Linked DNA regions of Homo sapiens: region 1 is linked to region 2. The links come from fine-mapping of genetic effects on gene expression. A gene starts in region 2. The other region holds a variant in brackets. All regions are shown on one strand. Distances are between the middles of the regions.

Region 1 (16,317 bases), 78 kb after region 2:
ATACCAAAGCCGGGCAGAGACACAACCAAAAAAGAGAATTTTAGACCAATATCCTTGATGAACATTGATGCAAAAATCCTCAATAAAATACTGGCAAACTGAATCCAGCAGCACATCAAAAAGCTTATCCACCATGATCAAGTGGGCTTCATCCCTGGGATGCAAGGCTGGTTCAATATACGCAAATCAATAAATGTAATCCAGCATATAAACAGAGCCAAAGACAAAAACCACATGATTATCTCAATAGATGCAGAAAAAGCCTTTGACAAAATTCAACAACCCTTCATGCTAAAAACTCTCAATAAATTAGGTATTGATGGGACGTATTTCAAAATAATAAGAGCTATCTATGACAAACCCACAGCCAATATCATACTGAATGGGCAAAAACTGGAAGCATTCCTTTTGAAAACTGGCACAAGACAGGGATGCCCTCTCTCACCGCTCCTATTCAACATAGTGTTGGAAGTTCTGGCCAGGGCAATCAGGCAGGAGAAGGAAATAAAGGGTATTCAATTAGGAAAAGAGGAAGTCAAATTGTCCCTGTTTGCAGACGACATGATTGTTTATCTAGAAAACCCCATCGTCTCAGCCCAAAATCTCCTTAAGCTGATAAGCAACTTCAGCAAAGTCTCAGGATACAAAATCAATGTACAAAAATCACAAGCATTCTTATACACCAACAACAGACAAACAGAGAGCCAAATCATGAGTGAACTCCCATTCACAATTGCTTCAAAGAGAATAAAATACCTAGGAATCCAACTTACAAGGGATGTGAAGGACCTCTTCAAGGAGAACTACAAACCACTGCTCAAGGAAATAAAAGAGGACACAAACAAATGGAAGAACATTCCATGCTCATGGGTAGGAAGAATCAATATCGTGAAAATGGCCATACTGCCCAAGGTAATTTACAGATTCAATGCCATCCCCATCAAGCTACCAATGACTTTCTTCACAGAATTGGAAAAAACTACTTTAAAGTTCATATGGAACCAAAAAAGAGCCCGCATCGCCAAGTCAATCCTAAGCCAAAAGAACAAAGCTGGAGGCATCACACTACCTGACTTCAAACTATACTACAAGGCTACAGTAACCAAAACAGCATGGTACTGGTACCAAAACAGAGATATAGATCAATGGAACAGAACAGAGCCCTCAGAAATAATGCCGCATATCTACAACTATCTGATCTTTGACAAACCTGAGAAAAACAAGCAATGGGGAAAGGATTCCCTATTTAATAAATGGTGCTGGGAAAACTGGCTAGCCATATGTAGAAAGCTGAAACTGGATCCCTTCCTTACACCTTATACAAAAATCAATTCAAGATGGATTAAAGATTTAAACGTTAGACCTAAAACCATAAAAACCCTAGAAGAAAACCTAGGCATTACCATTCAGGACATAGGCGTGGGCAAGGACTTCATGTCCAAAACACCAAAAGCAATGGCAACAAAAGCCAAAATTGACAAATGGGATCTAATTAAACTAAAGAGCTTCTGCACAGCAAAAGAAACTACCATCAGAGTGAACAGGCAACCTACAACATGGGAGAAAATTTTTGCAACCTACTCATCTGACAAAGGGCTAATATCCAGAATCTACAATGAACTCAAACAAATTTACAAGAAAAAAACAAACAACCCCATCAAAAAGTGGGCGAAGGACATGAACAGACACTTCTCAAAAGAAGACATTTATGCAGCCAAAAAACACATGAAGAAATGCTCATCATCACTGGCCATCAGAGAAATGCAAATCAAAACCACTATGAGATATCATCTCACACCAGTTAGAATGGCAATCATTAAAAAGTCAGGAAACAACAGGTGCTGGAGAGGATGTGGAGAAATAGGAACACTTTTACACTGTTGGTGGGACTGTAAACTAGTTCAACCATTGTGGAAGTCAGTGTGGCGATTCCTCAGGGATCTAGAACTAGAAATACCATTTGACCCAGCCATCCCATTATTGGGTATATACCCAAAGGACTATAAATCATGCTGCTATAAAGACACATGCACACGTATGTTTATTGCGGCACTATTCACAATAGCAAAGACTTGGAACCAACCCAAATGTCCAACAATGATAGACTGGATTAAGAAAATGTGGCACATATACACCATGGAATACTATGCAGCCATAAAAAATGATGAGTTCATATCCTTTGTAGGGACATGGATGAAATTGGAAACCATCATTCTCAGTAAACTATCGCAAGAACAAAAAACCAAACACCGCATATTCTCACTCATAGGTGGGAATTGAACAATGAGATCACATGGACACAGGAAGGGGAATATCACACTCTGGGGACTGTGGTGGGGTCGGGGGAGGGGGGAGGGATAGCATTGGGAGATATACCTAATGCTAGATGACACATTAGTGGGTGCAGCGCACCAGCATGGCACATGTATACATATGTAACTAACCTGCACAATGTGCACATGTACCCTAAAACTTAGAGTATAATAAAAAAAAAAAAAAAAAATGAGAAAAACCGAAATCATGCACCAGTCGATAAGATGCAATAAAGAATACAGCATCAAAAAAAAAAAATAAAAAAAAATAAAATGCACAATCAAAGCTCACTGCAGCCTAAATCTCCCAGGCGTAAGTGGTCCTCCTACCTCAGCCTCCTGAGTAGCTGGGACTACAGGCATGTACCACCAAACCCAGTTGTTTTTTAATTTTTATTTTTAGTAGAGATGAGGTCTTGCTCTCTTGCCCAGGCTGGTCTCAAACTCCTGAGCTCAAGCAGTCTTTCCATCTCAGACTCCCAAAGTGCTGGGATTACAGGCATGAGCCACTGTGCCCGACCAAATATTCTTCTTTTTATTAGTTGATGTAAAAGTCTAAAAACAAGTTTTGAAATTAACTTGATGCCTTTATTTATGGCAAATGGGCATAAGATCATTTTGACAATTTTTATTTATATTATATATTCTAGGACCTTTCTTATCTATGCTTAATGTAAGTTAAATGGTTGTGAGCCACAGACACAACTGCTTAAAGGGAAAAATGGTTTATTTCTCACATACTCTTTGAATTCCTTTCACATGATTATTTAATATTACATTAGGAGAAATTTTAGGGAAAAAAAGATGCTCATAATTCTACCTGCTCAATGAAACATTTTTAATTTTTTATACATATATAGTGCTATCTCATTTTTATCCATCAAACTTACACATGTGTAAGTATTATTAGGAGTATGCTTGTAGTTTGTATTTTTTGTTTGTTTATGAAACATATATTTTCTCTGTTGCTATAAGTGTTTGTAATTGGTTGTTAATGGCCAATAGTTGAATAAATCAGATTTCACAAAACCTTTTTCCACGGTGGCATATTTGGTTTGCATCACATTTGGCTCTTATGGAAACATCTAAGACTGTCTTGGAAAGTGAAATAATTTCCCCATCACTAGATTACACCGTCCCAGGCTTATTTAGGGTGCGGTACTAGCATTTCTTCATTATCAGGTGGGAAGAACTGGGTCTTCGCAAATCTACTCTTAACATGGTAGTAACTGTCTTTAAAAACACAGTCAACCCTTATTATTCATGGATTTCATATTTGCAAACTCACCTACTTGCTAAAATTAAGTTGCATTCCTAAAATCAACACTTGTGGCACTTTTGCCGTCATTCACAGACGCTCAGAGTGGGCAAAAATGTGGGTGGCCTGACACATATGTTCCAAGCTGAGGTCAAATACAGCAGCAATCTGCCTTCTTGTTCCAACTGTTGTTGTTTTTGTTTGTTTGTTTGTTTTCGAGATGGTGTCTCACTCTGTCTACCAGGCTGGAGTGCAGTGGCTCGATCTCAGCTCACTGCAACCTACACCTCCTGGGTTCAAGCAATTCTCCTGCCTCAGCCTCCCAGGTATTTGAGACTACAGGCACGTGCCACCATACCCAGCTAAGTTTTGTATTTTTACTAGAGATGGGGTTTCCCCATGTTGATCAGGCTGGTCTCGAACTCCTGACCTCAGGTAATCCACCTGCCTTGGCCTTGAGCCACCACTCCCAGCCTTGTTCTAGCTCTTATATTGTTAATGTGTCCTTCTTCACAGCCTGTTTAGTGCCACGTTTCACAATTTTGTATTGGTTTTTTTTTTAGAGGTGGGGTCTTGCTGTGTTGCCCAGGCTGATCTCGAACTCCTGAGCTCAAGTGTCTTCAGCCTTGGCCTCCCAAAGTGTTGGCATTACAGGTATGAGCTATCACATGTGGTTTGAGTTTTGTGCTTTTTTTGGTTGGTGATTTTGCTGATTAAAATGGCCCCAGGCATAGTGCTGCAGTGCTATCTAGTTCCTAGGCACAAGAAGACTGTGAGGTGCCTTATGGAGAAAATGTGTCTTAAATAAGCTTCATTCAGGCATTTACAGGACTGTTGGTGGTGAGCTTGATGACAATGAGTCAACAATATATATTTAAAAGACACCTCTAACTAGAGACACACATAAAATAAGGTTAAATATTGATCAATTGACAGAAAGTGTTGTAACCAGAGACTCAAGGAAACCAAACCTTGTGTTTTTCCTGGGCACAATGGTTTAGCATTTACTACTTCCATGTTTGCAGAGATTTTATAGAAGATACCTTCTGCAAATGATGAAAATCAGCTGCACATTGGGACAGTATCTGGATAAAGAAATGAAATGAAGTCAGATCATAGAATATCCCTTTCCCAATCCCTAAAAGAAATGGGCAAAAAGATAAAAACTAGCAGCTTTTCAAGAGAACTAAGACAGAGGGAAATCATCTGGTGCTGGCTAATTTCTATTTGCTCCCTAGCCCCACTGGCTAACCTTCTGTTATGGTTAATTTTACGTGTCAACTTGACTGGGCCACGGAATGCCCACTATCTGTTAAATGTTATTTCTGGATGGGTCTGTGAGGATGTTTCTGGAAAAGGTCAGCATTTGAATCAGTGGACTGAGTAAAGCAAATGGCCCCTCCAATGTGAGTGACACCATTCAATCCAATCCACTGAGTGCCCGAGTGGCAGATGGTTGAATTAGCTCTGCCTGGCTGTTTGGACTGTGACATCAATCTTCTCCTGCCCTCAGCGCTCCTGGTTATTAAGCCTTCAGACTCAGGTTGGAATCCACACCCGTGGCTCTCCAGCTCTCAGGCCTTCCAACTATACCATTGGCTTTCCTTGGTTTCCAGCTTGCAAACAGCAGATGGTGGACTTCGAGGCCTCCATAATTGTACAAGCCAATCCTTTATAACAAATCTCTTCATATCTCTGTGTTTCTCTGGAGAACCCTGACTAAGGCACTTTCTCCATGCTGCTCTCTGCTTCACAACACAGGCTGCTATGGACTCCATCCGTGGGGCTCTTGTGCCCTATAACTTCTGCTTGTATTTGACAACAAGATGCCTAGGAATGAGGTAGAGGACAGAGGAGACTGACATCATGGTGTTTGTCCCCTGCTCTCTCCACAAAGTGGCCAGCTGGCACTCCAATTCTTTCTAGATGTTTGCCTCATCTTTCAGGCTTAGGCTAGGTGGCATGGCTGCTGCAGACACTTGCCCTGTGTCCCAGGGTTTCTGTGTCCCTGCACCATTGCACAGCGCCCCGTATAGAAACTGCCCTGAACTCTCCTGTTGCAAGTGTGCCTGTGCTGACTGTGGAGACCCAGACTGACATGCTCCCCAACCCGTTGGATGAGGCCAGTATAACCTTGAAACCCAAACCAGGAAAGCACAATATGAGAAAAAACAATCACAGCCCAGTTTAACTCATGAAGATAGATACAAAAATTCTGAAGAAAACATTAGTAAACATACCACGCACAAAAATCTAGATGGATTATGGACGTAAATGGGAAATGCTAAACTTTAAGAATTTCAGAAAAAATATTTAAAAGTAGCTTTATGACCTTGATTTCCTAAATAAGACATAAAAAATGCAAACCACAAGAAAGAAAAATCAATACATTCTTTCCATTAAGATTAAGAATATTTTTTCATCAACATGCCATAAATAAAATGAAAAGACAACCACAACCCAGAGGATGACATTTGCAAGAAGGATAAATAAATCCTACAAATCAATTGAAGACAACCAAACAGAAAAATGGGCAAAAGATTTGAACTTGAAGACTTAATTACAGATTTCAACAGACTCTTGGCCCTCTTCCGCTTTTGCTGCTCATTGCTTCAGTGGGAAAAGCATCTGCTTACAGAAAACCAGACAGATCGCAGGAGAAGGTGGAAGCAGGAGTGTCGCAGCCTGCAGAATCCACCTGCTTTTTCTTTGCTTTCAAAATGGAACCTGATGACTATTTAAGAGCTGGTAAACAGATATTGTGTTGTGGAAAACGTCTGCAGAAAGGAGACCAAAGGCTGGATGAGGACGATGACCTCCCCACAAGCCCCTCCACTCTGGGCATCCTTGGCCTCTTGTGACACGCTCTCACTTTTTAAGCCTTGTGATTTCTCATGTTTCTGTGTCTGGAAAGAGAAAATGTACCCTGGGACCTTTGGAGCGATGCCAGCTTGGAGCCATCTGTAGCACCGCCTTGTTTGCTGACTTTCTGTGCGCCTGCTGCTGGCCTGCTCCCCAGAATCAGAAGGCATTTCCAGCCAAGATCAGCCATGTTCTTCTGCTGCTGCCCTGGGGGCGAGGGCTCAGGGCTGCAGTGGGAGCTGCTGCTGGCAGCATGGACTGTGCTCCCCTACCCCTGCCCTGCAGCCACAGTTGGGAGATTCCTCAAGCAGGCACAGACTGCTGACCATTCCTTCCTGGGCCATGTTTGGAGGGTGCCCAGCAGCAGGTGGGTCGCAAATAGATTTGCTTTCTGCCTGGGTTATCTCCAGGTCAGCAGCCAGCCTAGAACAGGATTATTTAGGGGACAAAGAAGAGCTTGTCAAATAGTGCTACATGCAAAAAAAAAAAAAAAAAAAAAAAATAGAGTGGAGAGAAGAAACCAACCGAGATCAGCCGTGTTGTTTACAGAGGATTATTTGTTTCCCCAGAATGATCAGAAAATTTCAGATAGCAGATGTCGGCTGATGAAGAGAGTGTCACAGTGTGACCCTTTCCCAGCACCAATGCCATATCTACTGGTGAAGGAGTGATGAAGAACTACAGCCAGGAAGCTCCCTGTCTGCAGGTTCCTCAGCCCACATAAGCAGAGCCTGCTGGGATAAAACACATCATCATGTTCTTGTTTATTTCCTGCTTCTCCTAGGAGCTGGACTGATAAAGAAATCCTGAGCTTGGTCGTCAACAGACAGAACCAGGAAGTTGTGCAGCTCATAGGGGGCCTCTGTGGGACACACACCATCTCGCCCACACAGCACCCAGCCACGGGTTGATCCAACAGGAATCCCACACTTGCCATCATGCCTGGTCCAGCAGTGGCCTGTTACCAGGTTCAGCTTATGAGACAGGAGGCCCAGTTTGCTGGACTCCTGGGAAACATACTTTTTCTTTCTTT[CT/C]TTTTTTTTTTTTTTTTCAGACGGGGTCTTACTCTGCTGGGCAGGCTGGAGTGCAGTGGCACAATCACAGCTCACTGCATTCTAGACCTCCAGGGCTCAAGCGATCCTTTCATCTCAGCCTCCAGAGTTGCTGAGACTACAGGCATGTGCTCCCCGGCTAATTTTTGTGTTTTTTAGTAGAGATGGGGTTTCACCATGTTGGCCAGGCAGGTCTTGAACTCCTGGCCTCATGTGATCTGCCCACCTTGGCCTCCCCAAAGTGTTGGGATTACAGGTGTGAGCCACGGCGCCTGGCCAAATTGCACATATTTAAAGTGTACAATTTGATGAAATTTGTCATACGTATGCACCTGTGGAATTATCACTACAATTCATACAACAGACATATCTATCACCTGAAGTTTTCTCATGCCCTTCTGCAATCCTTCTCTCCTATGCTCCTTATTCCACAGACATGAGCAGACCTCATATTTCCTGTTATTCCATGGTCTAACCAGAGCTCATATTTTTCCCTTCTTTTATTGGCAAGAACAGGGCTCCTATTTGTTATAGCCAGCACTCCTAATTTACTCTTGTTCCACGGAAATACTCAGGCCCCTATTTTTCCATTGTTTCATGGCAGTAACCAGACAACAACTAAGCCCTCTATTTCCCTTTGTTCTGTCGCCCAGGCTGGAGTGCTTGGTGTGATCTCAGCTCACTGCAGCCTCGACCTCTCTTGGGCTCAGGTGATCCTCCCACCTCAGCCTCCAGAGTAGCTGGGACTACAGATGTGGGCCACCATGTCTGGCTAATTTTTGTATTTTCTGTGGAAACGGGGTTTCACCATGTTGCCCAGGCTGGTCTGGAACTCCTGGGCTGAAGCAATCCTCCTAGCCTCAGCCTCCCAGGTGTCAGCCACTATGCTCTGCCCCTATTCCATGCTGTAACCAAGCTCCCTGTCTCCCTTTATACATGTACCTTACCAGAATCATATTTTTTTCCTGATTCCATGTCCACAGAGTCAGAAATCAGCATTTTGCTGACACAAGCTAAGGAACGCCAGTGTGACCTGTTAGGCGCCTCACATCTCTTTCTGTGGCATAGTCAGGGTCTATGTTTTCCTTTTCTTCAATTAAAATTGCCAGTGACTCATTTTCCTCTTTATGGACACAACCAACTCCCATATTTCTTAAGCAGATTTATTGTTTATGCTTTGAGCCCCACATCCATGGGGTTTCTAATATGGCCCACCCAATGTTATTTTTCCTCTCTATGGGCCTCAGCCTGATGGGGGTATCCCAGGTGTCTGGGGCATGCTGAGACGGCACAGGTCTGTGTGGCTTCCCGGATTACTCGGAATCCTTCATTATCTATTCTACAGCAAGTGGCCCTCGGCAGCTCAGGCTCAGGGAATTTCAAATGTATCACCTCCACCGGCTGGACAAGTCCTCTCAAGACAGGCTCTGGGGCCAAGGGAGGATGTTGTGACTGGTGCTAGCAACATTGTCATGATGGAAGGTGGCCTGGCTTCCGGGACATGACAGGCCATGGGTGAAGTGTGGGTTCAGAGTCACAGAAGAATCACGAAGAAGACATTCTTATGCACCTGACACCTGACTTGGGAGCAGGTTCTTTGCCTACATCCAGTTAGTCTCTACCACAATTCAAGTGGAGTCTTTCTCCCCATTCTCATATTACAGGTGAAGAAACCCAGCTTAGGGAGATGAGGTAACTCTCCCAGAGTCCCCAGCGAAGGACTTGAGCCAGGACAGTTGGATCCTAAGTCTCCTGCTTCCCCTCCCTCAGCACGCTACTCCTCACAGAACAACGCTTTATTTAGTTTTGGACATTTTAACCTTTATTTTGGAATAATTTCAGACTTACACAAAGGCTGCAAAAATAGCATAAAGCATTCTCGTATACCCTTCATTCCACTTCCCCAAATGTTAACATATTATACAATCACAGTACAACGGTGAAAACTAGAATATCAACATTCACACAATACTATTAACTAATCTGCAGATTTTATTCACATTTCATCAACTATTCCACTAATGTTTTTTTCTGGTAGGATTCCATTTAAGGTGTTTTTTTTTGTTTGTTTTTTGTTTTTTTTCTGAGACACAGTCTCGCTCTGTCACCTAGGCTGGAGTGCAGCGGCACCCTCCCGGCTCACTTCAGCCTCCACCTCCTGGGTTCAAGTGATTCTCCTGCCTCAGCCTCCCAAGTAACTGGGACTACAGGTACACACCACCACACCCAGCTAATTTTGTATTTTTAGTAGAGATGGGGTTTCACCATGTTGGCCAGGCTGGTCTCGAACTCCTGATCTCTGGTGATTCACCCACCTCAGCCTCCCAAAGTGCTGGGATTACAGGCGTGAGCCACCGCGCCCAGCCAGCAAATGTTTTTAAAATAGGGCATTCATGGGCTTTTGGGGGTAAGTGACACCTAATCTTCAGGGGTCTGCGGATAATTTCTAAATGGGGCTCACAGTTTATTCCTCCCTCATAGGGAGGCTGCAATTACCTCACAAAGCTCCACTAGGGTCACAACAAGATAGCAAAAGCCAGTGCAGGGCCTGCAGGTATAGGGGGATCCTGCAAGCAGAAATCTGTGGTGGGCGGGCGGCAGGTGAGCAAGGAGAACGTGTCTGTAAAGGAAGCACAGGGAACAGGTGGTGGCTTTGTAAGACAGTTGGAACCCAAGGAAGGTAAGAATAATGTACCACTCCTTGCTCCATATGACTGCTTCCTTATATCTCAGTTCAGATATTACCTTCTCCGTAAGGCCGCCTCCCTTCCTGTAAGTGATGCTTCTCTATCTACAACCCCAGCTCTTATTGCAGAGCACTGTAGGGGCTGTTCTGGGGCTTTTCTTCCCTGAGACATGTGAAGGCAGGGAGAGGGGCTTGCACGCCTTAGCAGGTGTTTAAAAATTTTGCTTGCCTGGATCACCAAAGAACTGAATGGGTGGTGTAAATGGGTAGAAAATGAACTGGCTGGAAACTGAGTGACAAGGTTCAGGTCTGAATCTCTGTTTAAATGCAGGCAGGCCATCCCCCAGGAAAGCCTATGTTGGTGAGGGTTATGATGGGAGAATGAGTGAACTGCAGCCTGGCACCACCACACCCTGGAAGGTGCAGTTGGGAAGAAAGTTTCTGAGGCTGTAGACATGGGGATCGGATGCTGGAGAAACCCCCTGCTGCTGCTGATTGCCCTGGTCCTGTCAGCCAAGCTGGGTCACTTCCAAAGGTGGGAGGGCTTCCAGCAGAAGCTCATGAGCAAGAAGAACATGAATTCAACACTCAACTTCTTCATTCAATCCTACAACAATGCCAGCAACGACACCTACTTATATCGAGTCCAGAGGCTAATTCGAAGTCAGATGCAGGTTTGTACCTTGCTCTCCCAAGACATCAGCAGGCCCTGTTCTTGCCAGTTCAGACATGTGAGGATTCTGGGGTAGCTCCCAAGAGAACCAAGTGGTGGTCCTCCGTGAGGTCCCAAGGGGGAAGCATCTTCACTTGTAGCAGGTACATTGTAGAGTTGTTCAGATCCCAGAATGTCCTTAGCCATGCTTCCAAAATGCTTTCCTAAGGACTGGCATGAACTCTAACTCCAATACACTTAGAGGCAAAAGTGTTCACTGAGGATTAAACTCTTTTTTTTTTTTTTTTTGAGATGGAGTTTCGCTCTTGTTGCCCACGCTGGAGTGCAATGGCATGATCTTGGCTCACTGCAACCTCCTCCTCCCAGGTTCAAGTGATTCTCCTGCCTCAGCCTCCCAAGTAGCTGAGATTACAGGTACGTACCACCACACCTGGCTAAATTTTTTGTATTTTTAGTAGAAACCGGTTTTCACCATGTTAGCCAAGCTGGTCTCGAACTCCTGACCTCAGGTGATCTGCCCACCTCGGCCTCCCAAAGTGCCGGAGTTACAGGCGTGAGATACCACGCCCGGCCAGCTCTTTTTCCTTGGGAAGAAATGCCTTTCATTCTGATATTTGACCCTGCCGGAGTGACAGCAAGGATAATTTTGCTCCCTTTAAAGTTCTCATTTGGCAAAATACAAATATTCTCTGTAGGCCTGTAGCCCCCAATATTTTTTCAATGTGTAGGGTTGTAAAATTCAAAACTGGGTGTTCTGTGTTATACAAACTTCAAATTATACAGAGGGTTTATTCTGGAAGTGGAGAGGATGTGAGAGATAGGGTTCAGCCAGATCACCTCACCTTCTGTTTTACATATAAAATTTCTCTGAAATATATCAATTGAAGGATAATAGAAGAAAGAAAAGTTGTTAGGGAACCCCTTTTATTGGTACAACATTTCCTCAAGGTCAGATAATAAACTATACAGTCCCCTTGGTGTCCATGAGGAATTGGTTCCAGGACCCCTCAGGATGCCCACATCCATGGATTCTGAAGTCTTTTATGTAAAATGGAATAGTGTTTCCACATAACCTATGCACATCTTCCCACATATGGTAAATCATTTCTAGATTAATTATAATAAGTGGTACAGTGTAAATGCTATGTAGATAATTATTATACTGTACTGTTTAGGGAATAATTACAAGAAAAAATGTTCAGTATACAGGCAACCATACATTTTTTTTTCCTGAATATTTTGATGCACGGTTGTTTGCATCCACAGATATGGAGCTCGTAAGTACAGAGGGCTGACTGTAGAAGTTGGGGCAGCAACAATGCTACGTCCTAGTTCAATTAGCTAGATTTGGGAAAACACAACTGGCTATGGGAAAGCTCTCTCGCCAGAGAGTAAGGCAGCTGGAACAGAGAGAACCGGCAAGGCGGGAGGGCAGCGTGGGGAGGACCAGTCAGCATAGGTCAAATCCTCATCCCAATGCAGACTGTCCCACAGGCTGGCTCAGTGAGGCACTTCTACCACAAGATGGCGATGTTGCCCATTTGGTTCTTGGTTCTTCCACAATTGGTTAAGACCCCAAGGAGGCTTGCCTTGTGAAATCAATCCATCACCATTAAGTTAGCTGTTAAGGAATAATGATGAGCATTTGATGTCATTCACATTGATAAGCAGACAGAGCAGGCGTGCCTCCTGGTAGCTGGGTGATCTTGGCATGGGCCTCTGGGCACCCCCACACCCATATGACCATTGTGTCTGTCCTTACACCTCACAGAGGGGACAAGAGCAGGCGTGGAGGGCTGCCAGGTGCCTCTGGGGGCTTCACGCCCAGCTCCTCCCAACTGAGGCTCCTGGTCAAGTGACATCCAGACTCTCCAGACCTCAGTTTCTTCACCTGCAAAGTGCCTCAGAATAGGAGGGAAGCACTTAGCACAGTGCCAACATCTGGTAGCACTTATAAAAAATCTTTGCTGTTATTATGACTACTCCTGTCATTATCGAACAAATAAGTCTAATAACGAATAACACTTTGCACACTGGAATGTCAGTTACAGTGATGACGGGTGGTTTAGTTTTTTCTTACATTCTGAGCATGCTGAAAGTCAGTGTGACCGTGCCTGGGGCAGCCCTGCAAATGCCCATGCATGGATGGCCCCCACATGTTTGGGTGCGGGGAGGCTGGTACTGCCCTCAGGTCTAGGCTCCCTGCTGCCCTGTCCCAGTGTTTGCTAAGGGTGTCTTCCTCCCAGGAGCAGTGTGGGCACTCTCTGCCTCAGTCACCACCCCAGAGATGACCAAGCCCTCTCACTGGGCTTGACCAGTGACAGGGCAAGGCAACAGGGAGCTTCCCAGAGCTTCTCCTGCACCGGTGAAGATCCACTAATCCACATATCTACTCAGGAATCCAGCTCAGAACCCGACAGGGAACCGTAACCCCCAAGCTCTCTGTTAGTCTCCCTTCTGGGCGTAGGGCCTCCCTGCCCACAAGGGCTTTTCCAGGCTCCAACCCCTGCAGGCTTCATGGCCTCACACTTGATCACAAGTGAAAGAGCCATGGGGAAATCCCTGGCATGCGTTCTCCATGGCTCGTGTACCCACCATGCCTCCTTCCTTCATTTCTGTACACGCTAGGAGGAAACTGGCATTATTCTCCTCATTTCCTAGATGAGGAAACTGAGATTCAGTAAAATTTACAGAGTCTGCAGGGGGTAAAGCCAGATTTTGTGTTCTGTCACTCTCCTAACACTGAATCTGCTTCAAAGTAACACTGCAGACACTTTGCTAAAAGATGTAATAACTTATAATTATGAAAATATTTAAAATTTATTTTATGCATTCAGGGAAATGCAAGCTTCCATTTAGCCCACATAACAACTCCAGAAGCAGGCACAATTGTGGTTTGTAGTTTGTAAGTGAAAAAGCTGAGGATGCTAAGTAACTTGCTCAAGGTCACAGTCACTAAATGGAAAATGCATGCCCCAAATCAATTCGATTCCAAAACTGTTTTTAACTGTATTGCTAAGCTGCCTTCCACTAGGTTGGTCAGGAAGGATAGTAGAGACAGAGGAAATGGCAGAAGGGACTGGGGGGGTGGGGACAAGATGCTGGCTCTGTTGCATTTTGAAGGCCACATCTGCCAGCCTGGGAGTGGCCTGTGGTGGCCAGGCAACCCAGCTTGATGTTGCCTCTTCTGTCCTGAGGATGGAACAGAGGCAGGTGAGAAGCTTTCTGTGGCTGCTGCAGCAAAACCAACCTATGACCAGGGGCTTTGGCTGCCATTGCCCTCCCTCCAGCCAGAAGTAAGGAGAAGGGAGCCATGCTTTTGGTGGGTAAGCTCCGCGAACAAGAACTGTGGCCCTGGGAGCTTTACTCTCAGTCCTAGCTTCTCCAGGAGAGGGTCAGCCACTGGATGCTTGGAGTCCACACTAACAGCACAACTGATTCTCGGCAGCTGACGACGGGAGTGGAGTATATAGTCACTGTGAAGATTGGCTGGACCAAATGCAAGAGGAATGACACGAGCAATTCTTCCTGCCCCCTGCAAAGCAAGAAGCTGAGAAAGGTGTGTAGTGGAAGTCATCCCAAAGGGACTTGTGAAGTGAATATTTTAAAAAGCAACAGCTAGAAGTTGGCAGTTTTGCCACTTGTGTGGATTGGGGCCAGCTGGGGCCCAGCCCTGGGGCTGTCTGGCACCTCCTGAGGCACCTGGGTGAAGGAGGGAGGCTTTATATTTGGGCTGGTACAGCCCTGCACCCAGGCCTCTGGTTGCCTGGACCCTTCTCCAACCTGGCCTGCTCCCCAGACCCTCTGCGTGAAAGCAGTGGTTCCCTTTCCTTGGGGTCCTTCTTCTGTCTTCTTTCTCCCTCTCCAGGTCTCTAAGGTTGTCCAATTTCCTCCTTGTTCCCTTCTATTTTTCCTGGTCCATGAGTGGCACCCCTTGAAAGCTGGCAGATACAAGGGGCTCCCCCATGCCTGGGGAGGTGCAGGAGGAGGTAACGATGCTATTGCTCCTTGCTGGCCTGCCTGGCCCACATGACAGGGTCCGGCCAGGCCATAGACTCCAGGTTCACCTGCTGTGGGTCCCAAGTGGCTGGGTAGGGGGAAGACAGGGTGACATTCCTGTTCCAGACTGGCACTCCTTTCTGTTTCTACCCTTGACTGTGGGCAGCTCCCCTCTCTGCCCATGGGGTTCATGAGCAGCCACAGGGAGAGACCTGGGGAACAGGTGCCTGTTGCTTGCCTTTGAAAAATACTTCCCCCAAAGTCTGTTTTCTTTCTTCTTCTACAGAGTTTAATTTGCGAGTCTTTGATATACACCATGCCCTGGATAAACTATTTCCAGCTCTGGAACAATTCCTGTCTGGAGGCCGAGCATGTGGGCAGAAACCTCAGATGAGGGCTCATATGATTGAGTTGTGCACTGGCTGTTATTAAACTGTAAAGGATCATGTCTCCCTCATTGGGGTCTTATTACACATGCACACACACACATGCACACACAGAGTGTACACGTACACACACTTGCACATACTTACCTTCACAACCCACACACACAATGCTCATACTCACGACACCCTCACACTCTCACCACTCACATACATGCACATTCACTTTAACAGCCTCACACACTCATCCACCCGCCCACCCACTCACTCCTACATGTCAAGCACATGCACACTCACTCGCACACACATTCAGTGGTCTTCAGGGGTTGGTGCAATCTTTTCTTTCTTTTCCTTTCTTTCTTTCTTTTTTTTTTTTTTTTTTGAGACACAGTCTTGCTCTGTTGCCCAGGCTGGAGAGAAGTGGCGCAATCACTGAAGCCTCCGCTAAAGTGGAGCTCACTGAAGCCTTGACTTCCCCGGGCTCAAGTGATTCTTTCACCTTAGCCTCCCAAGTAGCTGAGATTACAGGTGCACACCGCTTTGTCCAGCTAATTTTTTAAAACACTTTTTTTGTGGAGACAATATCTCCCTTTCTTGCCTAGGCTGGTCATGGACTCCTGGGCTCAAGTAATCCTCCTGCCTCAGTCTCCCAAAGTGTTGGGATTATAGGCGTGAGCTACCGCACCCACCCAGCTGATGCAATTAGAACAGAATGTTCATAATCATTGGGGAAACCTCATCATTCTTTCTACGCCACCCCACATCTCTATGGCTTTTCTGAATTTAGCATGTCCCTGAGCTCTGACCCTAGTGTGGGGAGCCCTATTTCTTCCCAGCACACACACAACACTGTGACTCACACACATTTTTGTGAGTGTGTCTGAGATTCCCAATACCAAATTCACATTGAGTGACTCACTAGAGGACTCACAGGACTTAGCCTAGAGTCATTCTCATGGCTGTGATATGACAGCAATGGGACACAGGGCAAAACCAGCAAAGGCAAAAGGTGCATGGCGCTAGGTCAGGAGAAAACCAGCCAGGAGCTTCCAGAGTTCTCTCTCGGTGCCGTCACACAGAGCACGCTCAATT
Region 2 (16,317 bases):
ACTCACAGGAAATAAGGCCATGCCACTGTGGTAGCTTTTCCCGTCCATCTCCGGACACTCGACGGTGTGGGTCGTGCGAGGAGGCGGCAGTCTTCACAGCCTCTTACTCTAGTCCTCACGGTCAGGTTCTTTTTCTGATTTGACACAGACAGCGGGACTGACGACCTCATAGGTAGCTGAAAACCGTAAGTGGAGATGGTCCTTCTATGGTGTGTGGGGGCGTGGCCAGTTGTTAGATTGTGTTTGGAAAGACAGCCAGGGGCGGAGAAGAGGGGCATTTCTGAGATGATGGGGGGACTGGTGCCATGGAGGGAGGAGGAGTGAGGTGGAGATCGGGAATTCCAGCCAAAGAGAAATGGGGTCCCTGGGAGAAAATTCCCACTCTAGCAGTCCTGGAGTTGTGCTCATGGAGACTTGCTTACGCGAGTACAAGGACAGCGTTGTATTGACAAAATTTCAGCCCTCAGTCTAGTCTTGTAAACGATAGATCAGGAGTGTACTTAACCGTCGTTACTTTGATCCAGCCCTAGGTTTCCCTTTTCTCATTTGTAAAATTGTTATAGTAATACCTTTTTCATCCATTTGTGGTAACATTTAAATGAGGTAATTTGTGTGAAGCCCTTAGCAAACACAGCGCTTCTTAGTCGTGGGTTCCGCGTGGGGTGGATTCAACCAACCTCAAATCAAAAATATTCTTCAGAAAAAGAAAAATGCGTTTGTACTGAACATGTAGAGGCTTTTTTTTTCTTGTCATTATTTCCTAAACTATACAGTATAACAACTATTTACATCCCATCTACATTGTATTAGGTATTATAAGTTACCTACAGATGATGAAGGTATATAGGAGGATGCTGCGCATAGGTTATATCAAACAGTACACCATTTTATCAGGGACTTGAGCATCTGCAGGTGTTGGTATCCTCGGGGGTCCTGAATCCAGTTCCTCACAGATACCGAGGGACCACTGTACTCAGTCCAGAGTACAGTTGAGGCTTAACTATGAGGTCTGTGGAGGGCGTGGAAAGACCCACGTCTGAAATTGGCTCTTAACTGCTCATTTTTAGGACAGCTTCCCTCCCAGCCAGCCCTTTACCAGAGGCAATGCACCATCTTTGCAGCCGTTATAAGTACCTGGCTCTTTCCAGCCCTATGTGGAATGTTTTATTTATTTCATAAGCTAATCATTATAAAAAAAAAAGTCTTTTTTTTGAAATGAAAAAAAACTGTTCACTAAGTTTGTAAGTATAAACTATTTTAGTAATGTCCTCTATTTTAGTAATGTCCTCTTTTTTTTAAGTGAAATATTTTAATTATGGAGAAAAGAACATAACAGTTGTACCTGTACCCTGAAAAAAGTAAATGTCAATTTTTTAAATGCTTTTGGACTTTTTTATTTGGGGGACAATGTGACATTTCAGCTATAGTTCATATTCTGTGTCCACACACCCAAGAGCTTTGAAATCTAACATGCCTTTCTGTGGAGGCACTGTGACTCCACAGGACTTATCTGGTGGATGTTAGTACCTGTGTAAGCTGGGTGTCCTCCCTTCTAATCCCCACTCACCCAAGAGGTTTGCTGCTTCTAGCTTATCATGGGGATTATGGCTGCCATTTTGATTCTGTCCTCATGTCATTTGTGTTTCTACCCTCTTAAGAAACCTGCCTTCTCTGCCTTCCCAGTTCCTCCTGAGTGAGCTCATGATAGACTTTCCTAGACTCAGCAGCTGACGAGCATTTCATTGGTTTGGTTGGCCTTTATTGGGCCAGTGACCACTCTTCCCTTCAACATGGTCCACTGTCTTTACCAAGGGGCTGTCATGTCTGTTGCAAGCATTCAGGAAAGAGTGGCCTTCCATACTCAAATGTACTCTATTTTATAAAATGTGATTTTAAAAATTCGTGGTCCAATCAGGCCTCCTTATCCTCTGGGAATTGATTCCAGCAGCCCCCCTAGCCCCACAACAGACCAAATCTGCTGATGCTCCAAGTCCTTGATATAAAATGGCGTTAAGGCCGGGCATGGTGGCTCATGCCTGTAATCCCAGCACTTTGGGGGGCCGAGGCAGGCAGATCACCTGAGGTCAGGAGTTTGAGACCAGACTGGCCAACATGGCGAAACCCTGTCTCTATTAAAAATACAAAAGTTAGCCAGGCGTGGTGGCGGGCATCTGTATTCCCAGCTACTTGGGAGGCTGAGGCAAGAAAATCGCTTGAAGCTGGGAGGCAGGTGTTGCAGTGAGCCGAGGTCGCGCCACTGCACTCCAGCCTGGGTGATAAAGTGAGACTGTCACAAAAACAAAATGGCATAGCACAGTCAGCCCAACGTATTTGCAGGTTTCGCCCTGAGGTTGGCTGAATCTGTGGATGCAAAACCCTCAGATATGGAGTGCTGACTATAACTAAATGTTTTTAAACTAAACACTTAAGGTATACTATCTCAGTTTGCCACAGTGGTAATCCCATCTTAACAGTGAGCAAACTGAGTCTTAGTAAAATTAGGCATTTTTAGGCATTGGGTACTATTTGAGCCTACAGTCATTGTTCTGCAGTCTGTAACTATTTTGCCAGTAGTAGAAAAGGAGGAATGTTCCATTGTCAGGGCAGAATGAACTTTGGCATTCACGTGGCTTCTCTTCAACCTTACTTCCCTGCAGCCCCTGGTTCCCCAAGGCAGAGGAAATACCCTGGTGGAGCCCTCCTTCCATAGAACCAGAGATGGCATCTGTGGATTTCAAGACCTATGTGGATCAGGCCTGCAGAGCTGCTGAGGAGTTTGTCAATGTCTACTACACCACCATGGATAAGCGGCGGCGTTTGCTGTCCCGCCTGTACATGGGCACAGCCACCCTGGTCTGGAATGGCAATGCTGTTTCAGGACAAGAATCCTTGAGTGAGTTTTTTGAAATGTTGCCTTCCAGCGAGTTCCAAATCAGCGTGGTAGACTGCCAGCCTGTTCATGATGAAGCCACACCAAGCCAGACCACGGTCCTTGTTGTCATCTGTGGATCAGTGAAGTTTGAGGGGAACAAACAACGGGACTTCAACCAGAACTTCATCCTGACCGCCCAGGCCTCACCCAGCAACACAGTGTGGAAGATCGCAAGTGACTGCTTCCGCTTCCAGGACTGGGCCAGCTAGTGGGGGTGGCAGAGGTCTCTTTGCTTCATTCAGCCCTAGCTCTGTAGAGAAATGCAAACCTCGACTCTCAAGGATGTGAGGAACACAAGTTCATTTCTGTTGTTGCGGAGACACTGCAGACTCCACTGTGCCGAGGTTGAACTCTTTTTTGTTGCTCAAGTTCTAGGAGTCCCTTTCCTGAATATATACTTGTTTGTCATAGTTTCCTTTTCAAAGTAGTAAACTTTTCTATTTTTCTACTTGCCCAGTAGAGACTCTGATTCTGGAAATTCTGACAAATAATTTAATAATACACATGTTGCTTCTTTCCCTGTCTGATGTGTTTGACCAGGTTGTGAGGGAGGAGGAGGGCTAAAGGCAGAAAGCATAATAGGAAGCACCCGCACAGGGGTGAGGATCAGGGCTTAGTACCTACCCCAGGCACCAGTGTGCACATAGTTGGCCCACCTGGAGCTGTGATTCACAGCCCCATGCACACTAGAATCCCTTGGGACACTGAAAATTACCTATGCCAAGGCCATACTCCAGACCCAACCATGCTTGAGTGTGTGTGTGTGTGTGTGTGTGTGTGTGTGTGTGTGTGTGTGTGTGTGGTGGTGGGTAGGGGGGTTGGTTTTGTTCCAGGCTGGAGTGCAGTGGCATAATCTTGGCTCACTGCAACCTCCATCTCCCGGGTTCTAACAATTCTCGTGCCTAAGCCTCCTGAGTAGCTGGGATTGCAGGCACATGCCACCACACCCGGCTAATTGTTTGCCTGAATCTTTGAGGATACGGCTGGGCATGGGCAGTTTCTAAAAGCACCCTAGGTGTCTTTTAGGATACATCACCTTAGGATATAGCAGAATCACCTAACAGATGGCTGGGCCCTACCTTAGCACCTTAGCTGAGAATTAAATGATGAGAACAGATGAAATACTAGAGTTAGCTAATTGCTTATAAATGAAGCCACTATATTAAACTCATTGATAAAGAGAAAGTGAATCAGCACTGATTCTGAGAGGAAGAAGCACTGAAACTAGGATGGAGGACATCAGAACCAGAAGCTGCTGTTACTGATCCTAAAGGCCAAACCCAATTGCATTTCTTCAATGTAAAGAATAGAAAACCCTATAGAAGTTGGACCAATAGATGATGTGCCTGCCATGCTGCAGCTTCCCCAGTTAAGTTGTCTTTGGTAAAAGTGTGCTAGGTTTGGGATAGGGTAGTCAAGATACTGCAATGGGAAATTTTGAGAAGGGTAAGAATCCTGATAAGCACAGTGACACAGGTAGCCGTTTCCTCTTGACACCCCTTCCCTTCTCTATTATCTGAAGCCCAGTGTTTTGAGAGATAAGGGACCCACCTTAAATACTTGACTTTCTCATTCAATTTGTAGCTAGGTCTGACATGTGATTAAGTTCTGGCCAATGAAGTAGGACTGAACTTGGGGGAATTTTCCTTCAACAGACCCTTCTTTCTTTCCCACTCTATCCTGCTGCCTGGAAAGGTTATGCTGACCTGACCACGGGCTCTGGCTCAGTCTTGGCCAAGAGAACAGCTCAGCCATACCCTAGACGTAGGATAGTGCTGAGCTAAAAGGAGCCTAGGTCCCATGTGGAAACACCAAAATAGCCCCAGCTCACTCAACCAAAGACTTCTTTTTAAATGAGAAATCCCATCTTAAGCCATTATCAATTTGGGGTGTGTGACACTGACACACAGCAGTAATCCTAAGTGAGGAAAAGGATTTGAATGGGGCAGACTGTATTCACTACAGGGCCCAGAAGACGCGGGGACGGCCCCAACTACTGCCCTTCAGGTCCGGGCCAGACCCGCAATGGGCAGGATGGGTAGGGTACAGGGCGTGCGTCCCCACCTACACTAGCCTGGTTGCAGGCGGCCTCCAAGGGCACAGCGGGAAGCTCCGCCCTTGCCATGCCCCCGCCACCGGGGAAGGCAAGACAAATGTGCGTGGCACCCTCCTCCTTCGGTTCTGGGACACATCTCCACCAAGCGGCCGTTCGGCAGGTAGGGCCAGATGGTCCCGGCTCGTCCCTGCGGGTGGGGTTTCCCACCGGCGGAAAGCGCAAGCCCCTCCCGTTCTGTCCAGCGCGCTGCCCGCTGCCTTAATTATAAGGCAGATGAAGGTGAAAAGTTTACTGGTTTTTATTTTTGCAACTTTTTGTAAATTTTAAATTATTCTAAAAAGTTTAAGAAATGAATTGTGCTGAGGAGTATAATCAGCACGCAGTGCGAGTTCTTATAGTGGCCACGTCCACAAACCCTGTGTTGTGGAAGAACAGAAGGCGTTCTGCTTTCTGTGTTTCACCGTCTCTCCCTCGCTTTAACTTCCAGGTCCCGGAGTAGTGGTGACAGCAAGGTCTGTTGGTTTCTTTGGTTTAGGTTTGATGAAAGGCCACTCCAGTGGGGTAGGAGGTGGGCAGGGAGAACAGGGGCTAGGGTGGGAGGGGCAGGAGTTGGGTCCTGGGGGTGGAGGAGATGACGGGGAGAGTGGCTTGGAGAAATCTGCAAGAAGAGACATTGGAAGGCCGGGGGAGGTGAAATGGACACTGGGTGAAGCTGAGGAGTCCTAGTGAACCATGTTACCTCTGATCCAGATATTCCCAGAACAACAAGAAATCAAGCTTCTGAATGTGGTCTGTTGCAAGCTTGGAAGGTGCACACCTGTTGCTGCTAATTTGGACAATTTGGGGGAAGAGCAGAGATTTAGATGTTGCTTTGGTCGACCTTAAACACCAGCCCTGTCTCCCCTACCACTTTGCCAAATTAGGGCCCCGTCTCTCTAAAGAGCAAACAGAAAACTGCAGAAAGTTGCTTTGTCCTGTAGACAAGAGGCTGGGACTAGGTAAGAGGAGGGAGCCAGGATGCAAAACTTAAGACCAGCCTGGCCAACAAGGCGAAACCCCGTTTCTACTAAAAATAGAAAAATTAGCTGGGCGTGGTGGCAGGCGCCTGTAATCCCAGCTACTCAGGAAGCTGAGGCAGGACAATCGCTTGAACCCAGGAGGCGGAGGTTGTAGTCAGCCAAGATCGCGCCACTGCATTCCAGTCTGGGCGACAGAGCGAGACTCCGTAACAAAAAACAAACAAACAAACAAAAAATCTTAAACATCACCAACGAGCCTTGTGAGAAATGGTTTAACGTTGTGATACCTTGCCCAATTTTAAGGCAGGTAAAGGTGTGTGTTAAAACTCAACTCTTGAACTGAACCCCAGCTGCCCTTTAGGGCATGCTTAATTTGATGTGGACTGTAACCTCTTTTGCAGCATTGTAGAGATTTGGAATCTGCACATTAGGAAGAGACCCCACGAGGCGGTGGCGTTCTTTCTCGTTCGGAGCTCACACCCCTCCTGGGGAGCCCTCTCCCAACCCGGGCTCCCGGTAAGCGCGGTCGCCGCTCCTCTGAGGGCTGCTCTTCCCTCGCTTCTGAGCCGAGGCCCCCGCGACACGAACGCCACGCCCGAAGCGCTCTTGCCAGGACGTACTGACCGAGGGTAGGCTGCCCAGCCGGGTGGTAACGTTGAGGAAAGGACAGCAGCTTCGCAAAGGAGCTGGGTAAAACCACGCCCAGACCCCGCTGGCCACCAGCCCGAGACCAAGACGCAGGCGGTGGCGCCGGTTTCTCACTCAACCGCAGGTTCCAGCATCCCCGATACGGCCGACGTCATTACCCTGCGACCGCTCAGGACACTTCTGAGGACTCTTTTGACAGCTAGTAATCGCGCGGTGGCGCGACCACGTGACTCCGGCGCCCTAGCCCCGCCCTCCGTCTCCAAGGAGCCCTGGAAGGAGCTATACCAGCGGCTCCAGAAGGCGGGGAGAGGCGGGGCCGGACTCCGGGACAGCCAATGGGCGAGGAGTGCCGCCCAGCCTGACCCACCGGCCGCTCCCTCACGAGCCTGTGGGCGTGCGCCGGCTGTGCAGGTGAGGGGCAGCGAGGGCGCCTAGTGGGCAGGGCGCCGGCGTTGCGCGTGCGTCAGTGTTCTTCCTTGTGCAGTTTAGAATTTGATACATTTCTTTCCAGTCTATTTCTATAGATTTGTTTTCAAATCACATCAGACCCTATGTAAAATAGTGTACCGTCTTTACTCATTATAACATGGTGAGCATTTCCCCAAGCTATTACACATATTTTTAAACATTGTTTTAATGACCGGCATAATAATCCAGTGCTTGGATATATCAAATTCTTCGGCCATCTCCTTATAGGTGAGATTGTTTCCAAAGTTTCACTAATGTAAGTGCACTGCAGTGAACGCCCTTACGTAACAATTGTTCACTCCCGTGTACTTTTCTCGTGCAGAGTTCTACAGCATGAAACACTATATTTAACTTTGTCAGGTTGATGTTTATCAGTGGTTTATTATTGTTTTTATAGTATTCCATTGTCAGTGAAGTATGCCATTCACACTGTCAAGTGAATTGTCTATTTGTATTATTTAAAAAAAAGATCACAAACATAGAAAGGAGAGCTTTATTTCTTTAAACGGTGATAACCTGCAAGGTGGCCCTTCTGACAGGCTGGGAAGCATAGCTTCTGGCAGAAGCTCAAAAGGCAGGCAGCTGGAGGGAAGGGGGCCTAAGACAGGAATTTAAGCTGAAGGACTTAGCCAAGTACACATATGAACAGGCCACAGGAAGAGCTATGAATATTCATGAAACGGGTCCTGACCCATGCTTACTGGACAAACGTGCATGTTACAGGTGACCTATGTTTACTTTGGGGTGGACTCTTAGCATTTACAGGTATTCATGTATTACATTTAGACCCTATAAGTTGAAAGATCTTTTCAGGACACCGATGCACTTGTGTGCAGCCTCTGTAAACCGCCAGAATCAGCCCCTGTTCGGTTGTTTCCCATCAGGAAAAAGTTACTGCAGTCAGTCTCTGGTCCAATCAAAGCAGTAATTATTTGTGGAAGTGGTGGGGCTGGGGCAGGGGGCGTGTCAGTCAGCATGTGGAGGTGGATGAAAAGCACATTGTTTGAATATTGCTTATCTAGAGGCCAGTGCTTGTTTGGCTGCCAGAGAATAAAAACCTTGTGGCAGTTAAGGCATAGTTTCTTCTTGAAGTGTAGAGGTGCATGACAACCCTTGCCAGGCATGGCCCTTCATTCTTTATCATTTAGTATTGCCACAAAGAGTCTGTGAGTCTTATGACCTCTATTTTTAAAGCTATTAAGACACTCAACTAAAGCAATCCTTTCAGTATTGAATGGATAAGCTAGCATTATGTTATGCTAGCTAACATAATCGGAGACGGAGTCTCATTCTATTGCCCAGGCTGGAGTGCAATGGCATGATCGAAGCTCACTGCAACCTCCATCTCCTGGGTTCAAGTGATTCTCCTGCCTCAGCCTCCTGAGCATCTGGGATTACAAGTGCCTGTCACCACTCCCGGCTAATTTGGTTTTGTTTTTTTGAGACAGAGTTTTCCTCTGTTGCCCAGGCTGGAATGCAGTGGTGCAATCTCCGCTCACTGCAACCTCTGCCTCCCATGTTCAAGCGATTCTCCTGCCTCAGTCTCCTGAATAGCTGGGATTAAAGGCATGTACCACCTCGCCCAGCTAATTTTTGTATTATTAGCAGGGAAAGGGTTTCACCATGTTGTCCAGGCTGGTCTTGAACTCCTGACCTCAGGTGATCCGCCCACTTCAGCCTCCCAAAGTGCTAGAATTACAGGTGTGAGCCACCGCACCTGGCCTAATTTTTGTATTTTAGCAGAGACGGGGTTTCACCATGTTGGCCAGGCTGGTCTTCAACTCCTGACCTCAAGTGATCGGCCCGCCTCGGCCTCCCAAAGTGCTGGGATTACAGGCGTGAGCCACCGTGCCTGACCACCTTTTTGTAATGCAAAACAAAATCATAAAACACGATTCTGGGCCTGCTGGAGCCATGGGTGAAAACTGCGTTCATTCCAATTTCTTCAAATCATGGAATGCAAATATAGAGAGTCGGCCTAAGAAAGATTTCTGTCACTCATTCATTCTTCAAATATTTATTGAGCACCTACTATGTGTGGGAAGCTGGCTCCTGTTCAGGAAATATAATTAAAAGTACAATCTCCCAACCCTCTTCAGAAAGGTAGTGGAGAAAGAAAACACTTTGTAATTGAATAAGCATTAAACTAGAATGTGATACCCATCACAGGCAATCCATTAAGAGACTGCAAAGACAGAACGAAATCTCACTCTTTTGTGCAGCCAAGCAATCTATTACACACATTTTCAAGATAAACAATAACTAGCTCTCAAGGGAACTTGGCAGCATTTTTCATCACACACAGTTCATCTAACCTGATATTTGGGATGATCCTCTGTGTTAGCCAATTGGCTTTATCTAGAGGAAAAAGAAACTTGTATCTTTATGATATGAGATAATTTTGTAAGTTGGAGCAAAGGGCCCACTGAAGTTAGGCTCCTACTCCCCCATTAAAACTGGGAGACAGGGGCATTAACTCCCTTGATACTTAAAGAGATGGCTCCTAGGTCCTAGAAAAAGACATATCTAGGTTATAAAGCGCACAAAAAGGCCTAACTAGTCTTCAAAAGGATTTATATATTTCAAAGAGAGGAAAAAGTACTTACACTAATTACCAATTTTCTAAAAGTAAATGTTCGAAGAAAAAGGGAGGGAAATCTCATATTTTCAACAGGAAGTAGTAAACCTTATTTTAAATTTGTATTTGTCCTGACAGTCCCCAAACATTACAAACTCAACGTGTCGGTAAGACAAGGCTGAGTTAACTGCTGGCCACAGTAAGGGACAGCATGACCTGGCAAAGCTTTACCAATGGCTGGGAGCAAAAGGCAAGGTCAGTTTATTGAGAACTGGAAGTCTGACTCAAGGAAGGTGTTTCAAAGCGGGCTTTAGTTAGTATTGAGCAAGAATTGGTGGAAACAGCAAGATTTCGAGGAGTCAGCGAATCTTAGGGAATCAATTGTGCTTTCCCCGAAGAGTGGATGGGTCTCTGGGGAAGTTCTGTAGTGAACAAAGCTTTCGCCCGAATGGGAACTCCTGGAAATAAAGCCCTGCAGTAAAGACGGCAGGGTGCGGTCCCGGCTCCTGGCGCGCCGAGCCCCCCAGCAGGGCGGGGGCACCGCGGAAGAAGCGCCCCAGAGGAGAGCGCCGCGCCGAGCCCCGCCTGGCGCCAGTTCTCCAGCGCCCGTGGAGGCATCTGCGCCCCTAGTAGCCAAGGTGAGTACCAGCTCCAAGCCCGGCTTTCCGCGAGGTCCCTCGCGTGGCCACCGTGCCCTAAGGGTGCGCTCGGCCTCGGGGACGTGAGCAGCTCTTAGTGGGAAGCCAGCTGCAGGCCCTGACCGCAGGCTGCTGGGGCCCGGAAGCGCTGGCGCCTTGCGGCCAGAAGCCCGGAATGGACGCGAAAGTGACCACGCGAATCTGACGCTCACGTGACTTTTCGCGACTGGCCCCGCCCCCCTGTGGCGTGCCGCAGCGCAGACGTCGCTGTCTCCTGCGCAGGCGCAGGCCTTGGCTCGCGGCGGGTGACGCAATGCGGCGGGTGACGCAATCCGGCGTCGCCAGTCAGTCGCGCGGCCAGATCAGGTAACTGCCCGAACCGCTCCGCCGCCCGACGTGTGGCTCAGCCCCTTCCTCAGCCCCGCCAGGGGCGGGGCCGGCCGCGGGAGGGGAGGGGCCTGCAGCGACCAATCGGCGGTGCCCGCGCAGGGTGCTACGCCACGCCCAGCCGGGCCGGCCGTTCCTACCGGCCTGGTCCAGCGGACAGCGGCTGCAGCGGGGGCGCCGGCTGGGAGGTGAGTGCGCGGCCCGTAGGCCTGGCTCCGGCCCCTCGCCGCCCGCCGCCGCCTCTTTGTCCGCGCGCCCCGGCTGCTCTGTGGACCTGCGCGTCTCGGGGATGCGGGAGCGGGGGCAGGGGGCGGCCCGAGGGCCTGATCCACGCGGCCCCGGATGCCCGCGTCGGGAGGCGGCGCGTCGGGCCGAGGAGGGGCTTCTCTGTGGCTGCAGTAGTTTGTTCTCTGGGTCGTCTTTGGAGTGGCCGAGCGGCGTCCGGGCGCTGGGGCGGCCAAGTGGCGCGGGAAGGGTGGGAGGTGCCGTGAGGGCGGCGAGGACAGCGGCGGATTTAAGCCCCACTGGAAACCCCGGCCCTTGTGGCCGTGGACTGGGCTGCGGGTAGCAGCGTCTCCTGGAAGGGCTCTGGCCCCGTGAGCCTCGGGGATTCAGGGGCCGCCGACGTTGGTGCAGATGCCGGGCGCACTGGGAGGCGGCCGGAATGCCAATGAGATTCGGCGGATACGCAGCTGTCACCGGCCGCAGACTGCCCTGTCGCCACCTCCAGTGCCTGCACTCCAGTAGCCAAGCAACATAGGAAATCGCGCTCAGAACCCACTTTGTTGATTGAGAAATCAGGTCTCCTCGAGGGCCCTGTTGGCAGAGGTCTGGGGAAGTCAGGGCATCAGGCTGAGAGAGCCCTCTGCAGTCTTGTTTCCCCAGGCTGGGGCTGGGACCACTGAAACCCCAGTGGCTCTATAAGAGCCCCACTCTTATAGATCCCTTCCTTAGGCTTTGTCAGTGTTCTCACAGTTTTACTGGGGCGTCTCCTTCAGGCGACATTGATCAAGCCTCATAGGTACCTGTTTACAGCGGAACTCCCAGAGGGCAGTCTTTTCCATGTTTGAGGGACTGCTAGTTGTGGGGAGCGGTCTCATTGATGAGACTGGAGAAGGGGAGAGGGGTGGGACTAGTTTATCAGGGAAGATGATGACAACTTTTTTTCTAGACACGTTGAATCCGAGGTGACATCTGTGGTCTGGCCGAAGGAGGCTAGAAGGAAGGCATGTGCTTTGGATGGATGGAAACAGGAATCAAAGAGGAAGGTAGATTCAGGAGCTGAAGGGCAGGGAGAAAACACATTCAGGGAGTTTGTGGCAAAGCAGCAGAAATGACGATGGGGTGACGGTATCTGGAGGCCTTAGGTGGGGTTGGTGAAATTTGCATGCCCGCTGCAGTGGAAAGATTTAGGGGCTAAAGATAGCCCTTTGCCTTTGGCAAGGCTGAGGGGAAGAGTGTGTTGAGTAGTCTGAGTTGAATCCGGGCACCAGGCCCTGGCTCATGTCCCAACCAGCCATTGACTGTTACCTTGATAGGTCCTCATCTATGAAATGGGGATCACTGTAGCACCTTGGCCTATGTGTGGGAAACCAATAAACTAGCCAACAAGTTTCAGGCTCATGGAACCCTGGTAACAGCCGGTCAGCCTTCTTCAGAGGAGGAAATGGGTTCAGAGAAGTTGCTTGCTCAAAGTAGCACAGCTTGTAAAAGCTGTGGAACTTAACATTATTTCAGTAGAGTAACAATAATTCAAATTCTGAGGAGTTTAGGATGTTGGGAATGGGCGATGAATTGTGAACTACTTTTCCAAGAAGTTTTCCTCATGGAAAGTAGTTATTTAGTTGGTTCTTTTCAAAGGCAGAAATGATTCCCTGAGGTTTTGGATTTGCTCCCAGATGGTGGTGGCTATGTGTTTTAATTATCTGGTTTCCTGATCAGAGAACTAGACATTATTGTTGCCATGAATTCTTTTACAGTTTTGGGGACTATGTAAGCAAATTAGACAGTGACCTTGGTGAGCAAATTACTGTGTTAATGTATTTCACTAATCACAACTTCCATCATTTGTTTATCACTGGAGGAAACCTTAGAATACACTATTTTTCATGCCAATTTATTACCTTAGGAAAATGCATGAGGAACCTCACTTTAGAAAACTGCTAAGAAGTAAAATGTCATTCGAATCTTTACCTGAGTAAAGCTAGGTTGTTAATGAGTCTATATCCTCTCAAGTACTGAAGGAATCCTCATAAATTTTAGTCCTTTTGCATCAGTGGTTGCTCATGCATAATTCTTGTTTCTTTTTCAAAGCTGTTTTTGGAAGGAAGAAAGATGGAAAGCGGTGCAGTTCTGCTGGAATCCAAATCCTCCCCATTTAACCTACTGCATGAGATGCATGAGCTTCGCCTCCTGGGTCACCTGTGTGACGTGACAGTCAGCGTGGAGTATCAGGGTGTCCGCAAAGACTTCATGGCCCACAAGGCAGTGCTGGCTGCCACCAGCAAGTTTTTTAAGGAAGTGTTCCTTAATGAGAAGAGTGTGGATGGTACTAGGACTAATGTCTACTTAAATGAAGTGCAGGTTGCTGACTTTGCTTCATTTCTTGAGTTTGTCTACACTGCAAAGGTACAGGTGGAAGAAGATCGGGTGCAGCGAATGCTGGAAGTGGCTGAAAAGCTGAAATGTTTGGATTTATCAGAAACTTGTTTTCAATTAAAGAAACAGATGTTAGAGTCAGTACTTTTGGAGTTGCAAAATTTCTCAGAGTCTCAGGAGGTGGAGGTGAGCAGTGGCTCCCAAGTTAGTGCTGCTCCTGCCCCCAGGGCAAGTGTGGCCACCGATGGCCCTCACCCCAGTGGTCTCACGGATTCCTTGGACTACCCAGGAGAGAGAGCCAGCAATGGCATGTCTTCAGATTTGCCACCGAAGAAGTCCAAGGACAAACTAGACAAGAAGAAAGAGGTAGTTAAACCTCCCTACCCTAAAATCAGGAGAGCTAGTGGAAGGCTGGCTGGGAGGAAGGTCTTTGTGGAGATCCCTAAAAAGAAATATACGAGAAGACTCCGAGAGCAGCAGAAAACTGCTGAGGGTGATGTGGGGGACTACAGGTGTCCCCAGGACCAAAGCCCGGACAGGGTGGGCACGGAGATGGAGCAGGTTTCCAAAAATGAGGGTTGCCAGGCAGGTGCTGAGTTGGAGGAATTGTCAAAGAAAGCAGGGCCGGAGGAGGAAGAGGAGGAGGAGGAGGAGGACGAAGAAGGGGAGAAGAAGAAGAGCAACTTTAAGTGCAGCATTTGCGAGAAGGCGTTTCTGTATGAGAAGAGCTTCCTGAAGCACAGCAAGCACCGCCACGGCGTGGCCACCGAGGTGGTGTACCGCTGCGACACCTGCGGCCAGACCTTCGCCAACCGCTGCAACCTGAAGAGCCACCAGCGCCACGTGCACAGCAGCGAGCGCCATTTCCCATGCGAGCTGTGCGGGAAGAAGTTCAAGCGCAAGAAGGACGTGAAGCGGCACGTGCTGCAGGTGCATGAGGGCGGCGGCGAGCGGCACCGCTGCGGCCAGTGCGGCAAGGGCCTGAGTTCCAAGACAGCGCTGCGGCTGCACGAGCGCACACACACGGGAGACCGGCCCTACGGCTGCACCGAGTGCGGCGCCAGGTTCTCGCAGCCGTCCGCGCTCAAGACGCACATGAGGTACGCGGGGAGCCGTCCGGAGGGGTCCCTGCGCACTGGAAGGGTGTGTCAAGCACTGAGGTCGTCCTGGGATTTGATGTCTCACTGCTTAATTTCTCCGCTCCAAACCTGGGGGCTTATTTCGAGACAGCGTTTAGTTCTCTGTCAAGGTACAGGGGCTGCGAGTGATGGCTCTGCTCCCTTGTTCTGAGACCCCTGGGGCGCCCCTGCTGGCCGGGACGTCCCTCTGGTGGGACCGCGACAGCGGCCGCGGGCTCGCCCCACCGTGCTGGAGGAAGAGTTGGGCCTCGTTACCTTTATTTCTCCTTTCCTGACTCTTCGTTTAGATCTTGGGGTTCTGTGACCATCCGGGTCCCACAGTCTCAGTAGAGACCTCAGTGAGATGCCATTTCAGGCTTTAGGACTCGTCTCTGGTCTTTTGGTTCTCAGGCTTGGAAGGAGTGCCATCTAGGCAGTCTGCACTCCAGAATCAGGACAGACAGTGCTTTCTGTTTCTTAATATGTTTCTGAGCTGCAGGTGTGTGGTGATGTTTTTAAATAAGTTTTCTTATAGTTCTTAGTATATTTATTCTTGAAATCCCAACAAGCAGTTGTTTTCTCTTCTCTTCTAGATCTGCCCTCAAACCTAGGTCAGTCTTGGGTTAGCAGCATGGTGTTCATTTTTTACTCTATATAATAAGTTAAAAATACTTGGTTTAGGAAGTGCTCAGTAAATTATGTTTGATTGCTACTTCATACTAGTTGTGACATTAAAATGCTTATGCATTTTAAAAATGCCACCTTCGGCAATTTGAGAACAGTTCTCCTTTCTCTACTGGTGATGTCATATTAGGAAATGAGAGTAACATTTTTGATCATGTGACACTTAATCAGCAGTAGTTCCTAAGGTGTTTGTGGCTGATTATTCTGTATGAGACAGCTTTACAAATATCAGATTGTGGTCTTTAGTGTTTAAAAAAATCTGCAAAGGCCTGGTCTCTACCTGCACATGCCTTATAGCATCAGCAGTAGGGCTTGTGATCAGGTGTAGATGAACATTCCAGTCAGTGATTTATGGAAAATGTGTGGATCCATTGACCTTGTGCAGAAACTCAGTTTATTTTGGGATGGAGATTATGGGCTCTTGACCTGTCACTACAGTCATTCTCATTAGGTCTCTTGGAGTAAACGATTTTTGCAGGATAGAGTGGAAATTGTATTGCAAAGTGAGCTTTGAAATACATCCTAAGTTATCATCTGAATGTTGTACTTTCAGAATTCATACAGGGGAAAAACCTTTTGTCTGTGATGAATGTGGTGCAAGATTCACTCAGAACCACATGCTGATTTATCATAAAAGGTGTCACACAGGTAAATACTCATGCTGTTGTGATTGAATGTCTTTCCTAGATCTAGAAGGAAATGCAATTGATTAATTTTGAAGTTGGCATCTACCAAGGTGGTGCAGGTTAAAGCCATGATATAGCTTTTCCATCTAGTAAGTGAGCAAAATGAATAAACATACACCCATTGCCTTGTTGCTAGTGTGCACATGGCTGTGGCTTTTATACCACCAGGCCATAGGATCTGGCATGCAGGTCTTAGGTATCAAGAGATATAAAATAGTTCTTTTGTAACCGAAATTTTTTTTTCTAAGACTCTGTCCTAAAGAAATTGTCCAACATATGGGAAGAGCTGTATGCTATTATCCCCCTTCTTGCTATTTTTAACTAAGAATGGGAAACAGCCTGATTGTCCAACTACAAGGAAGTGCTCTAGTCAACTCTGGTAAATCTATACCCTGGCTTATGACCCGGCTATTCAGAGTAAGGGCTCTGAATGACATGAAAAAGTCTGTGCTTGGATGTTCAACTTTAAAATGCACAATTAAGCATACAGTTAACCTCAATTGTA

Evidence for each region.
Region 1: its variant is fine-mapped to the expression of GZF1 in whole blood (INTERVAL, PIP 0.97).

Annotation. Positions count from the first base shown.
Region 1 is chr20:23,429,643-23,445,959 of GRCh38, forward strand. It overlaps CSTL1 (cystatin like 1), which reads left to right and starts at 10,043. Exons shown (of 4, transcript NM_138283.1): 1 at 10,043-10,164; 2 at 10,502-10,844; 3 at 14,292-14,402; 4 at 15,129-15,288. The coding sequence starts at 10,626. The coding sequence ends at 15,236. RefSeq lists enhancers at 12,282-12,381, 12,784-13,363. The variant CT/C (reference allele first, on the strand shown) is at 7,466.
Region 2 is chr20:23,351,324-23,367,640 of GRCh38, forward strand. It overlaps GZF1 (GDNF inducible zinc finger protein 1), which reads left to right and starts at 10,859. Exons shown (of 6, transcript NM_022482.5): 1 at 10,859-10,914; 2 at 13,040-14,424; 3 at 15,680-15,774. The coding sequence starts at 13,061. LINC01431 (long intergenic non-protein coding RNA 1431) reads right to left here and starts at 6,804. Exons shown (of 3, transcript NR_109884.1): 1 at 6,632-6,804; 2 at 5,728-5,814; 3 at 5,271-5,646. NXT1 (nuclear transport factor 2 like export factor 1) reads left to right here. Exons shown (of 2, transcript NM_013248.3): 2 at 2,658-3,448. The coding sequence starts at 2,719. The coding sequence ends at 3,141. It overlaps NXT1-AS1 (NXT1 antisense RNA 1), which reads right to left and starts at 144. Exons shown (of 3, transcript XR_937384.2): 1 at 7-144. RefSeq lists enhancers at 1-213, 6,230-6,319, 6,510-6,899, 10,325-10,584, 12,399-12,458 and 1 more and silencers at 6,950-7,139, 10,145-10,234, 10,655-11,144.